Regions from separate parts of the Homo sapiens genome. Here all the other regions are linked to region 1. The links come from fine-mapping of genetic effects on gene expression. A gene starts in region 1. Each other region holds a variant in brackets. All regions are shown on one strand. Distances are from middle to middle.

The links.
Region 2: its variant is fine-mapped to the expression of NTSR1 in whole blood (TOPMed, PIP above 0.99). The same link has a PIP of 0.9 or more in T cells, blood mononuclear cells and macrophages.
Region 3: its variant is fine-mapped to the expression of NTSR1 in cerebral cortex (GTEx, PIP above 0.99).

What each region holds. Positions count from the first base shown.
Region 1 is chr20:62,706,614-62,710,676 of GRCh38, reverse strand. NTSR1 (neurotensin receptor 1) reads right to left here and starts at 1,841. Exons shown (of 4, transcript NM_002531.3): 1 at 756-1,841. The coding sequence starts at 1,469. RefSeq lists enhancers at 550-1,094, 1,095-1,641, 1,851-2,363, 2,364-2,877.
Region 2 is chr20:62,743,228-62,747,290 of GRCh38, reverse strand. The region is part of intron 1 of NTSR1 (neurotensin receptor 1); the gene reads right to left. Among named protein-coding and RNA genes, the nearest start is that of NTSR1-AS1, 9.9 kb to the right of the region's middle. The variant T/C (reference allele first, on the strand shown) is at 2,495.
Region 3 is chr20:62,733,476-62,737,538 of GRCh38, reverse strand. All of the region lies in intron 1 of NTSR1 (neurotensin receptor 1), which reads right to left. It overlaps NTSR1-AS1 (NTSR1 antisense RNA 1), which reads left to right and starts at 2,180. Exons shown (of 2, transcript NR_199009.1): 1 at 2,180-2,313. RefSeq lists an enhancer at 1,911-2,756. The variant A/G (reference allele first, on the strand shown) is at 2,390.

The sequences.
Region 1 (4,063 bases):
ATTCCCACGGCGCTTTGCTCAGACCCTTGGAGGGCCCTTAGTCACTCGGCTCCAGTTTTACACACCTCACCACAACACCGCCGCCACACGCAGATCCTCACAACCTTCCCCGCAGAAACATCGTCCCCACCATCCCGCAATAATAGTGCCTGTGAGCCCTTCTATGTGTCAGGGGCCATGCAAACACTTCCCACGCGTCCTCTCTCCAATGCTCTACCTTCTGAGGTCAATGCTATCACTACCCCATCACACAGATGGGAAAGCTGAGGCTAAACTAGGAACTGGCCCAACACGGCATCAGGTTCTGTTCTGACTCCCAAGTTTGGGTCAGGGCAGGCAGCTGGGAGGCACCGGCAGAGCCAGTCTGGGGGCTTCTCTGCAGAGGAAGGAACATCACCTGTTGGTGGCACAGTCTTTTGAGAAGCTGATGAAAGTGTTACTCTTCCTTTGGAGACGCAGGTGCCAGCGCACATGTTTCCATTAGGCTTAAGGAATTCAGAGATGTCCGAGGCCCAGCCACCAACACCAGAGAGGTCACAGGCAGGGGCTCCATCCCCTCAACAGGAGGGAAGAAGATAGGGGCTGAGCCTGGCAACTCTGGAGCTGCCCCCAAGCTGCCCCAACCGCCTTCCCAGCCTCGCAGGAGTAGACTGTCTCTGTGACATCTCTCCCACTCCCTACCCAGAAGGCACACCACTGGCACTGCTTTTGGGGTGAAGGAGAGGGGAGCCCCGGGGCTGGTTACTGAGGCTCACCTGTATGACGACCTTGACGGTGGCAGTGTGGATGGTGGGGGTGCACACCAGGCCGCCGGCGTGCTGGCCGTCGGCGCTGCGGTTCTGCTCGCCCATGGTGAACAGCATAGGCACCGCCAGCAGGGCCGAGGCGAGCCAGATGGCGCTGATGAACTTCTTGGTGCGGCTTCGGGACATGAGGGTCTTGGCCTTGAAGGGGTGGCAGATGGCCAGGTAGCGCTCCACACTCAGGCTGGCCACGTTGAGGGCCGTGGCGTAGGTGCAGGCGTCGCGCAGGAAGTAGTAGCCGCGGCAGCCGGCGTCGCCGAAGGCCCAGGGGTGGTGCACCCAGATGAAGTTGTACAGCTCCACGGGCATGGCCAGCAGCAGGGTGAGCAGGTCGGACAGCGCCAGGCTGCCCAGGTGGTAATGCACCGTGCTCTGCAGGCTCTGCAGCGACTTCTTCCGCGCCAGCGTGAACGCCGTCACCGTGTTGCCCACCGTGCCCACCACGAAGAGCGCCAGGTACACGGCGGTCACCAGCACCTTGGAGTAGATGTCGGTGTTCACGTCCAGCTCGCTGCTGGGTGCCGCCAGGACGCGCTCCGACGCGTTGCCCGAAGCGTTGCCGAAGCCCGGGGCCAGCAGCGCCTCCTCCAGTCCGGCCTGCGCCCGCTGGAAGGGGTCGGCGGCCGGCGTGCCCGGGGTTCCCGGCGCGGAGCTGTTGAGGCGCATGGTGGGCGCTGGAGTCCGCGGCTCTGTCCGGCGCCTCCGGGGCTGGAAGTCCGGGCAGGAGTGGGCGCGTCTCAGGCGGGGACCGATGAACGGGAGCCCAGGGGAGGGCGCGTGGCGAAGACCAGCGGGCGCGCCGTCCAGTCGGGAAGCGCCAGACCCAGACGCGCCGCCCCGGGCTCCGGGCTCCGGGCTCCGCTCTCCTCCGGACTCCCAGCTTCCGGCTCCTAGCTCCAGAACCCGTGGTTCCTCGGGCTGTCTCCCGGCTCGGCGCTTGCCACGGGTTCCAGGTGCCTCCGATCTCCAAACCGCGCGGTTCCCCAGGCCCCCGAGGACAGCGCCCAGCCCGGCTCGGGCTGCGCGGGGCGAGCTTGTGGCGCCGGGAGGAGCGCACGCACTGCTGCCCGGGCGCGCTCCCCTCCCTCGCTCAGAATCTCCTCCCTCGCGCTCTCCGCGCACCCCAGCCCCGCACACCTCCCGCCGCGCCCGCGCCCTCCCGGCTCTGCGCGTCTCCACGGAGCCGGCGGCCGCGCGGCGCGCCCAGCAGTGGGGGGTGGCGGCGGAGGAGGGAGGCAGCCCCCGCCGCCATCCCCGCCCCGCCCGGGTGCAGCCTGGCGGGTCGCCCCCTCGCGCTCCCCGGGGCAGGGCGGGCTGGGGTGAGCGCTCCAGGGAACCAGGATTCCGAGCGGGCGCGGCGGGTATCGTGCACCAGACCCTTCCTGCCACCCTCTTCCCTGTTCTCCGCAATTTCTCGCACCGGCTAGGAAGGGAACTATGCACCTCCCCCAACCCTGGGCTCGCTCAGTTGGGGTGAGGGTGTATCCGGAGGGCAGGGAGGGAGGAAGCTCCCCGCTGGCAGGGCTGGGCGGCTGCGCAGCTGGTTGGGCCGACCCCCACTCCTGGGTGTCCACAGGGTGCCAGAAGCTGGGTGCCCAGGGGGCTCTAGGACCACTGGAGATTACATTTCTGGTGATTCCTTTTAAAATCTGGCCGCAGTCATGGGCGTGCCTGGTCTGTGAATGCGTATTTCTGGGATGTGCCCAGTGGAAATGGTGGGGGCTCAGGGCATAGTTATCACCTGGGGCAGGATGGCGTGAGGCAGTACCGAGGGACACCTGCAGGGGCTGAGGAGCTGAGGGGCTGGGTCCTGCAGAGGCCGGGAGCCACAGATGGTTTCATCAAAGTCTGGGGAGGGGTGAATGAGGGAGGGCAGAAAGCAGGTGCCCAGAGCAGCACCCTCCCCACTCAGGGCCCTGCATCTGGCACCCTGGGCTGGTCTCATGACGCTATGGGATGTGATGCCCTGGGCCCCTTATTACTGCCTGGATTTGTCATCAGAAGCCACCCTGAGAGCCTGCGCCCCAGCAGGATTTGGGAGAGGCAGCCCCAGCACGCATCCTCCCAGGCCCTGCAGGCTTTGCACACTCCCTCCCTCTGAGTGTCCTCACAGGGTGCCCCGGCCCCTGGCTCGGGAGCCAGGTGAGGGCAAGATTCCTGTCCTTTCCGTGTCCCCCCCAGCACCTGGTGGCACTGGCATAGGTGGCCAGGCACAAGCTTGCCCCCCCCTCCATGTCTGGGTTGCCCAGGGGCCCCCAGGGCACTACTGTCCCTTCTCTGGGCCCTCCCCGCCCCCTCCCCTGCTCCCTCCTCCCCAGAACCCCTGGGAGAGGTTGGGTAGAGCTGCTGCCCCATGTGTGCAGGGCTGGGAGGAGCTGCTCGAGTGCAGCCCAGGGAACCAGCCTGGCCTTTGTGCACATGGCTGGCTGCACCTGCTGTGCTGGGAGCAGGAAACCTGGGCAGGCTGGGGCGGGGGTCGCAGGGTGTTGAGGGAAGCGGGAGGCTGAGGAACCCCCTCCCGGGCCCGCCCAGCTAGGAGAATTCAAGGCTTCTGAGCCGGTGGCTGGCAGCGGGACTCTGTGATTATTCGTCCGTTCTCGCCCTGCTTTGGACTTCTCTGTTCAACCGGAGCCTGATACTCTTGTCAGGGGGCTGCAGCTCACAAACATCAGAGCTTAGAAATCTTGGCATCAAAGGAAACGCCAGTGATCCCTTTGCTGGAAGCCAGTAGATAGGATTGAATGTTGGCCCTGCTACTTCACATTTGGGCGAGTGTGCTTAGCGTCTCTGTGCCTCGATTGAGTCGTCTGTAAAATGGGAATAGCGGCTGAATGAAGGGCAGGGCTGTTACTGATGGGTCTCCACGGGGAATGAACGAGGTCGAATGGGCTGTCGGGTGTGAGGTGAGGTGTTCCATCCAACTAGAATAGGCTGGAGTAGGCCAGATTTGTCCTCTGGAAGACACGATTCACCAGTTAAGTACACAGGTTTTTTTATTTTTTTATTTTTTTTATTTGTTGAGATGGAGTCTCGCTCTGTCACCCAGGCTCGAGGGCAGTGGCGCGATCTTGGCTCACTGCAAGCTCCGCCTCCCAGGTTCTCGCCATTTTCCTGCCTCAGCCTCCCGAATAGCTGGGACTACAGGCGCTAATTTTTTTGTATTTTTAGTAGAGACAGGATTTCACCATGTTAGCCAGGATGGTCTCCATCTCCTGACTTCGTGATCCACCCGCCTTGGCCTCCCAAAGTGCTGGGATTGC
Region 2 (4,063 bases), 37 kb before region 1:
ACACTGAGTGTGGTGTTAGCTGTGGGTCTGTCATACGTGGCCTTTATTGTGTAGCATGCATTCAACACCCAGTTTGTTGAGTGTTTTTATCATGAAAGGATGCTGAGTTTTGTCAAATGCTTTTTCTGTATCAAATGAGATGATCAAATGGCTCTTGTCCTTCCTTCTGTTCATGTGGTGGATCACATTTACTGATTCATATGTGCTGAACTGTGTTTCCATCCCAGGGATAAATCCCACCTGCTCATGGTGGATGAGCCTTTCAACATGCTGTTGAATGAAGTTTGCCAGTATTTTGTTGAAGATTTTTGCCTCTTGGTTCTTTTCTCATAGCGTCCTTCTCTGGCTTTGGTATCAGGGTAATGCTGACCTTGTAAGATGAGTTAGAAAGTGTTCCTTCCTCTTCACATTTTCGGAATTGTATAAGGACTGGTGTTAATTCTTCTTTAAATGTTTGTAGCATCCATCGGCGAAGCAACCTGGCCCTGCCCTGGGGTTTTCTTTTTTGGGAGGTTTTTGGTAACTGATTCAATCTCCTTCTTTGTTATTGGTCCTTTCAGATTTTCCATTTCTCGCGATTGACTCTAGGAAGCTTGTGAGTTTCTAGGAATGTATCCATTTTTTCCAGGCTGTCCAGCTGGTTTGTATAAAATTGTTCACAGTTTATTATGATCCTTTTGATTTCTGTGGCATCTTGTAAAGTCTCCTCTTTCATATCTGATTTTAGCTATGTCTTCTCTCTTTTTTCTTGGTTAGTCTAGCTTCCCTCCACCTTTCTCCCTTCCTCCCTCCCACAAACATCACTGCCTTGGAGAAGCCATAGGAGCCCCTGCCGTCAGAGGTCTTGGATCCTGGGGAGGAGAGACCACTGAAAGAACCACCTGCAGTGACTTCAGGGCCAATAAGAGCTACAGACACAGCGATGCTGGCGGCAGCCTGGCTGCAGTAGTGCTGGGGGTTCCGGGAAGGCCTCTGCTTGGAGGTGACTTCTCATCTCTGACCTGATGGCACCCACAAGCCTACAGGGACCCTAAGCTCTCCTGGCAGACGGTCCAGCAAACTCACAGACCTGAGAACTCAGGGGGTGAGAACTGAACAGGAAGCAGACGGCCAGGCTGGGGTAGTGTGGGGGCCTGGTGGTGACCCGCCGGGCGGCAGCCTTGACCTTCCCCCTGGCTGACCCCTTCTCTGACCTCTGCTAGTGTGGCCCCCGTCCCTGCCCAGGCTGAGCGTCTACCTCTCTAGGCGTCTCAGCCCTGGCCACATAGGGTGGCCTTGAGGGACTTTGTCCAATGGACTCAAGCAGCTTGAAGGCCATGCAGGGCCGGCCAGAGGATGCCTCAGCGCCACTGATGCCACAGCACCCTGGCGCCTTTCGATTTGTCTCTAAAGAGAGCAGGGAGTCACCTGGCCCAGCCCCATGAATATTCTGGGGGACGCGTGGTGGCTGGGACTCCCAGACCGCCTGGCTTTGCAATTCCAAGCAGCAGGGGAGGGTCATGGCCAACAGCAGGGAAGCCCTGGGGACGGCGAGGCTGTTCAGCAGCTGTAGAGAAGGCCATCCAGTCCCAGCGAGGTCCACGCCAAGCTGGATTTGGAGGCGAGGCAGAATATGTGTCTCTGTCTGTCTTTGTATCTTTCTCCTGTGATGTCTCTGTGTTTTTCTCTGTGTTTTTCTGTGTCTCTGTCTCCTTGTATGTTTTCCTTCCTGTGTCTGTCTCTGTTGTGTCTCTCTCTGTATATCTGTGTGTTTTCCTCTGTGTCTCTGTCTTTCACTGTTTTCCTGTGTCTGTCTCTGTCTGTGTGTCTCTGTTGTTCCTGTGTCTCTATCTCTGTATCTCTGTGTCTCTGTTCTCCTGTGTCTCTCTCTGTCTGTTTTCCTGAGTCTGTGTCTCTATCTCTATATCTCTGTGTCTCTGTCTCTATCTCTGTCTCTGTTTTCTTGTGTCTCTGTATCTCTGTCTCTGTGTCTCCCTGTGTCTGTTTTCCTCTATGTGTCTGTTTCTCTGTCTCTGTGTCTCTCTCCATGTCTCTCTGTGTCTCTGCTTTCCTCTCTGTGTCTCTCTCTCTGTCTTTGTGTTGCTGTCTGTCTGGGTCTCCCTCTGAGTCTGGTGTGTGTACCAACATCCTCAGGTGGCAGGAACTGGCTGGGCCACCCTCCCTGGAGCCGGCTGGGTAGCTGGGCTCTGGGCCATGGGCCTCAGTGGCTGGGTCTGAGGTTTTAGGGGTGGATGTTCCAGAGCAGAAGGTCATGGTGGGAGACAGGGGTGTCTGCTGTGACAGCCGTGGTGGTCTGGAGGTGGGGCTGCCTCCATGGGAATCTCATTCGTGCTTCTGGCAGTATCCTCTGCTGTGTGCACCCCTCAGCTGCTACCCCTTGCCTCCTAGCCCTGTCTGGGTCTGGGAATGGCGTTTGAGTGGTTGGTAGGGCCTCAAGCCTCTCAGAAGCAGCCGAATGCCTGGGGTTTGGTGCCAGAAGTGGGGGCCTGGCTTG[T/C]TCCCTGGCCAGCTGTGAGCTCGGCAGGTCCTCCTGGGCCTCAGGCTCATTTCTCTCTTTTTTTTTTGTGAGACTGAGCTTTGCTCTTGTTGCCCAGGCTGGAGTGCAGTGGCGCGATTTCTGCTTATCACAACCTCCGTCTCCCAGGTTCAAGTGATTCTCCTGCCTCAGCCTTCCTGAGTAGCTGGGATTACAGGCATGTGCCACCATGCCTGGCTAATTTTGTATTTTTTTTTTTTTTTGAGACGGAGTCTTGTTCTGTCACCCAGGCTGGAGTGCAGTGGTGTGATCTCAGCTCATTGCAAGCTCCACCTCCCGGGTTCACGCCATTCTCCTGCCTCAGTCTCCCCAGTAGCTGGGACTACAGGTGCACGCCGCCATGCCTGGCTAATTTTTTTGTATTTTTAGTAGAGACAGGGTTTCACCATGTTAGCCAGGATGGTCTCGATCTCCTGACCTCATGACCCGCCCACCTCGGCCTCCCAAAGTGCTGGGATTACAAACACGAGCCACTGCGTCCAGCCCCTCAGCCTCATTTCTAAAAGAGCGAGCCTAGAGGTGCTGCCTCAGTTCCTGGAGCACTGACTGTGCTCCCTTGGGTGTGGGAAAGGAAGCAAATTGGGGGGCACAGGACTGCGGCTTGGGAGGCTGGGATGGGACACGCTGGGGCGACGGCTGGTGGGGCTGGACCTATGGGAGGGACAGCCTGGCCTCTGCCCCCTCGCATGTGTAATTTTGATGGGGAGGACGGAGGTGGAGTGAAAGGTTAGATAATGAAACAGCAGGTGTGTTAGGGGGATCTGGACCGGGGCGCAGCCTCTGGGTGGTTGGTCTGAGCTTGGCCGTGGAGACCAGGTGGGGAGCGGGAGGGGTGCACACGGTATGCCTGCCCACAGGTGAGGGCACAGCCAGACAGCAGGAGGGTGCCCCCGACACAGGCTCCAGACAGCCGGCCTCAGCCCCTCGACCTCAGGCAGGGCGTTCTCACCTCGCTCTTCGAGAGCAATTGCTTGTTTTGTATTCTGCCTTTCTCTCTAATTCATCCCATTGTGTTTAGATCAAGAGACAGCCCCAGACTGGCACACTGCTTCCCGGCTCCGCAGCCAGCCTGTGCTGAGTGGGAAGGTGCAAAACCCTTTTGCTTTGCAGAACCCAGAGGCTTTGTAAGATGGCTGCAGAGGCTGCGGGGCGGGTGGGAGGGGAGGCTCCTGTCCACACCCTCCCAAGGGGGTGACCGCTGGGGTGGCCTTGCTGGGCTGGCAGGGGATCGCCCTCTCCCTGAGCAGATGACCAGCCCCAGCAGGGCCCAGGCTCACGGACGGTCTTTTCTAACCTCCCAGACAGACTCCAGGTGGAGAGGCCCCCACTAGACCCAGCAAACACTGACTTGGGAGCAACCCTCAGGGTTCTCATGACCCCGAACTGCCTTCCCCACCACAGCTGAGGCCAGGAACGATGGCAGAGTTAATTCAGAAACCCTGTGTGCCAGGGCCGTCAGCACAGGCTTGTTCGAAACCCCAATGATTGGTGAACAACTCAAAGGCTCACCCTTTGGGGCTGGTCGCCATG
Region 3 (4,063 bases), 27 kb before region 1:
GCATCCCATGCTCGGCCCCTCCCTGCAAGTAGGACAAGTGGCCCCACAGAGGTCACGTGCCTGCCGCTGTGCCTGATGAGCAGGGGTGCAGCCGTGAGTCAAGGGGCTCTCCGACTGCACGGAGGGAGCCATTTCACCTCTGGACACGCATCCTAGGGTGGGGTGGGTGAATGCTTTCTGTGAAGGTCCAGAGAGTGAGTCACTGTGGCTTCGTGGGCCGGAGGATCTCAACTTTTGAGCAGAACCACTCACTGTGGCCGCTGTGGCCAACACAGCCATAGCAGTACGTACATGAGCAGGTGGGGCTGAGTGCTGATGAAACTTTACAACTCCAGGTGGGTCTGGGTTGGCCCCGTCCTCACGAACACGGGGCTGATCATCGCACCATCCATCCGGGAAAGACTGGGCCCAGGCCAAGTGTGTGAGTCCATTTTCGCACTGCTCTAAAGAACTGCCGAGACTGTGTAGTTTATAAAGGAAAGAGGTTGAATTGACTCACAGTTCTGCAGGGCTGGGGGAGCCTCAGGAGACCTACAATCATGGTGGAGGGAGAAGCAGGCACTTTCTTCACTGGGCAGCAGGACGGTGTGAGTGACAGCAGGGCAAACGCCAGACGCTTCTAAAACCATCAGATCTCATGAGATTCACTCTCACAAGAACTGCCTGGGGGAACCGCCCCCACGATCCAGTCACCTCCCCCTGGTCCTGCCCTTGACACGGGGCATTATGGGGATTACAATTCCCATGAGATTTTGGGTGGGGACACAGCCAAACACATCACGAAGTAACTCCTACGCCAGGTGTGTGCATGTGGCCTGGGCCCTGGTCACAGATGGAAAATGAAGCAGTAAAACAGAGGAGGGTCTCAGCTTGCGGGTCCTATGCTGAGGGTCCAGGTTGTTCCCTGGGAGCCACAGGCCAGGGCCTCGGAGTCCTCGGAGTCCTCGCTGGGAAAGGGGCTCTGCTGGAGGTTTGGGCCCGCCCTGCATAGCTGGGAGCCCTCTCTTTGCCCCACCCACAGGTGGAAGCCACTTCCCTCCTCTCCCAAACCCCCTCTCCTGGTTCCCCAGTTGGAGTGATCCACAGAGGAGATTCTGCGTCTAAACTGGGACTCAGGGAAGCTTCTGGAACTGTGAGAGGGGTTTGGTTCCTGCCTTTCTGAAGACAAAGTGGCGCCTGTCTTTCAGGGCATTGCGCCTGAGGGTACAGAGAGTGGGGCTCTGCCTCTGGGGTCCCAGGGTCTCCCCAGCTGCCAAGGGCAGCAGCCCCAGACCCAGACAGGGAAAGGAGCCTGGCTTCCCTTCCCGCCCTGCTCCATGGGGCAAGTGCAGAGAATCCCCAGCCACGATGCCCCTGCCCGAGGCACCCCAGGCTCCAGGCAGATCTCAGGCCTCCTAACCCAGGCCCTGCCCCGAAGGGACAAGTTTCAGAACAAACTGTCCACTGGGCTAATACCCCGGCTTTTGTGATCACCACATACTGATTTCTATCGAGGGATGAAAATTGACAAATTTAAACGGGAATTACTGGGCTCGGAAATTTGTTCTTTGTAATGAAGGGAACAGTTGAATACAGAATCTGAATTTGGGATTCAGACCAGACCCCCTCAGAGAAAGTGCTGAACCCGTGAGGAATTGGAGGGTAAGGGGAACTGTTCTTGGCAACTCCTGTCCCATTTCCTTTTGGGATGGGGGCTGCTCCCGCCCCCTGCACAGCCCCACAGGTCACAGCGGGGAAGACCCTGTCCCTGGTCCCCGGTCGCAGTGTGTGCCCTTTCCTACTTCCCTGCACGCCAGCCTCAGGAGGTGAGCTCACCTCGCCGTGTCGGGGGGACTCCCGTGTTACCCACCCCCCAAGCCAGGGAGCGGCCTCCAGGGGAGCATGGGGGAGGCTGAGGCCACCTTGCGGGGAGGCTGTTCCTGGGGCTGGGACGCCTCTCTCTGAATCATCCCCGCCCACAGAAGGAATTCATCTCACTCCTAATAATGTGTTTGTCACAAAGACATAATCGGCTCATCTGTGAGACTCCAGCGTGCACAGCGGTGCTGGCTCTTTGTTGTATAGTGGCAGTCTCACTGCAAGGCCGTTGGGCTTTGAGGAAAGGGAAGGAGGCACCCACTCTCTCCCCGGGGGGCCCCTGCCTTCCCTCGCAGTCCCACCTCTTCCGCCTGCCTCCATCACAGCAATTCAAATAACTATGAATGGGGCTACCTGGGAGCCCCACATCCCTGGCTGTGGGAACAGGCTGACCTTCCAGCACAGTGTCCTCCTGGTGCCAGGCACTGCCCCTCTGCCAAGGACCCTGCAGGCCTGGTAGGTCCCCAAGGGCACCCGTGGCCTCCCACCCCCTAACCATGGTTTTGGCACTGAGCTGGCGGCCAGGCGGGGC[A/G]GAGGAGGGAGCTGAGCGTCTTTCTTTAGTGTGCACGTCACCGCACACGATGGCACCCCACTGGTTGCTGCCCATCATGCAGGGCTGCCTCCACATGGGGCCTCAGCACCGGCTGGTGCCTGGCACCCCGCACGCGGCACCCCACCCCAAGGGGAGGCTGTACAGGCTCTGGACACACCCCAAAGCCACCCGAGGGCTGCTTCTCATCAGCAGGGAGGGGCTCGGGCAGCACAGTCCCGTGGAAATAGGATGCAGGCCACGTGAGGCTTAAATGTACCAGTAGCTATGTTACAAAAGTGGAAGGAAACAGCTATGATAATTTTAATACGATATCTTATTTAACTTAATGTATTCAAAATATCATATCAACTTGCAACGGTATTAGTGAGCTATTGTATACCGCCTTTCCGCATTAACTCTAAAACCCGGTGCGGATTTCAGGCTGAAGCTCATCTTCACTCAGACCAGCCATGTCTCAATGCCCAGTGGCCACGTGTGGCCCAGGGCTGCCACATTAGACAGGGCTGCCTGCAGCTTTTATGGGAAGCCACCTGGGCCAGGCACACCAGCGCCTGCTCCTCGCTCCCCAGGGGTGGTCTTGGCCCCAGCTCTGCTCAGCAGAGAACCCAGAGCCTCCAGGTCAGCCCCGGACACAGGGCGTGGGCATTGCACAAGGTCAAGAATGAGTTACTCATTTTCAACCACCTAAAAAGATGGCCCCAAAATGAAGCCTGGGTAAGACAAGGGGCCACGTCCTTCCAGGAGCAGAGCTCGGCTTCCTCTGCATCGGCCACAAAGCCCCTACTGCACCGAAGCCCAAGAGCTGAGCCAAGATTTTTTTTTTTTTTTGCGGGGAAGGGGGTCACACTCCAGAGAAGGCTCCAGAAAAGCTCTCATCCCAGACCTCGCTGCCTCCGCCCGCCCCTCACGCCCCATCTCTTGCCCGTCCCCCACCAGGGCTGAAGAGTGAACTCAGTAGTAACCCACGTGGCTGAGCCAGAGAAGGAGGCTGCGCAGGGGACAAGGCGGTCGCTTCCAGGATGAGAAGCGCAGACTCGAGGTCGGGCAAACCTGCCGCCGGCCCCAGCCGTGTGCATCTGAGCAAGTGGCTTCCCCCAGCCTCAGGCTCCTCATCTGTGAAACGAAACCCCCTCCAAGCTGGGCTGGCTCAGCACCCAAAACCATCATTTAAAATGCGACCCTGCCTGGGGGCTGTTCGAATCCTCTATTGAGATAAAGTAGCAATCATACATTCATCAGTCACTACTCCCTGCTGGAGGCCTCTTCCCCAGCACAGAGCCTTCCCTCTCTCAGCTGAGACCCCAGGCAAGGGTAGGGAGAAGAGGGTGCTGTCTCCCTCCCCCTCCTCCCCTCTCTCTCCTCTGTTCCTCCCTTTCTCTCTGTGTCTCTCTCTCCTTCTCTCCCTCTCTTTGTGTTTCTCCCTCTGTTTCTCTCTCTGCCTTTCCCTCTCTCCTCTCTTTCCTTTTCTCTCTCCCTCTCTCTTCTCTATCTCCCTCTTTTTCTCCATGTGTGTATCTCTCCTCCCCATCCCCAGAAGCCAGCCCACATGGCTCACCCTGCATTGCTAGGTGAGACAGGCCTGAGCCCTAAGCCAGGAGTCAGCCACAGCCGAGCTTTCCAGAACTTTCTAGAACCTTCCCTTTCCAAAGTGGA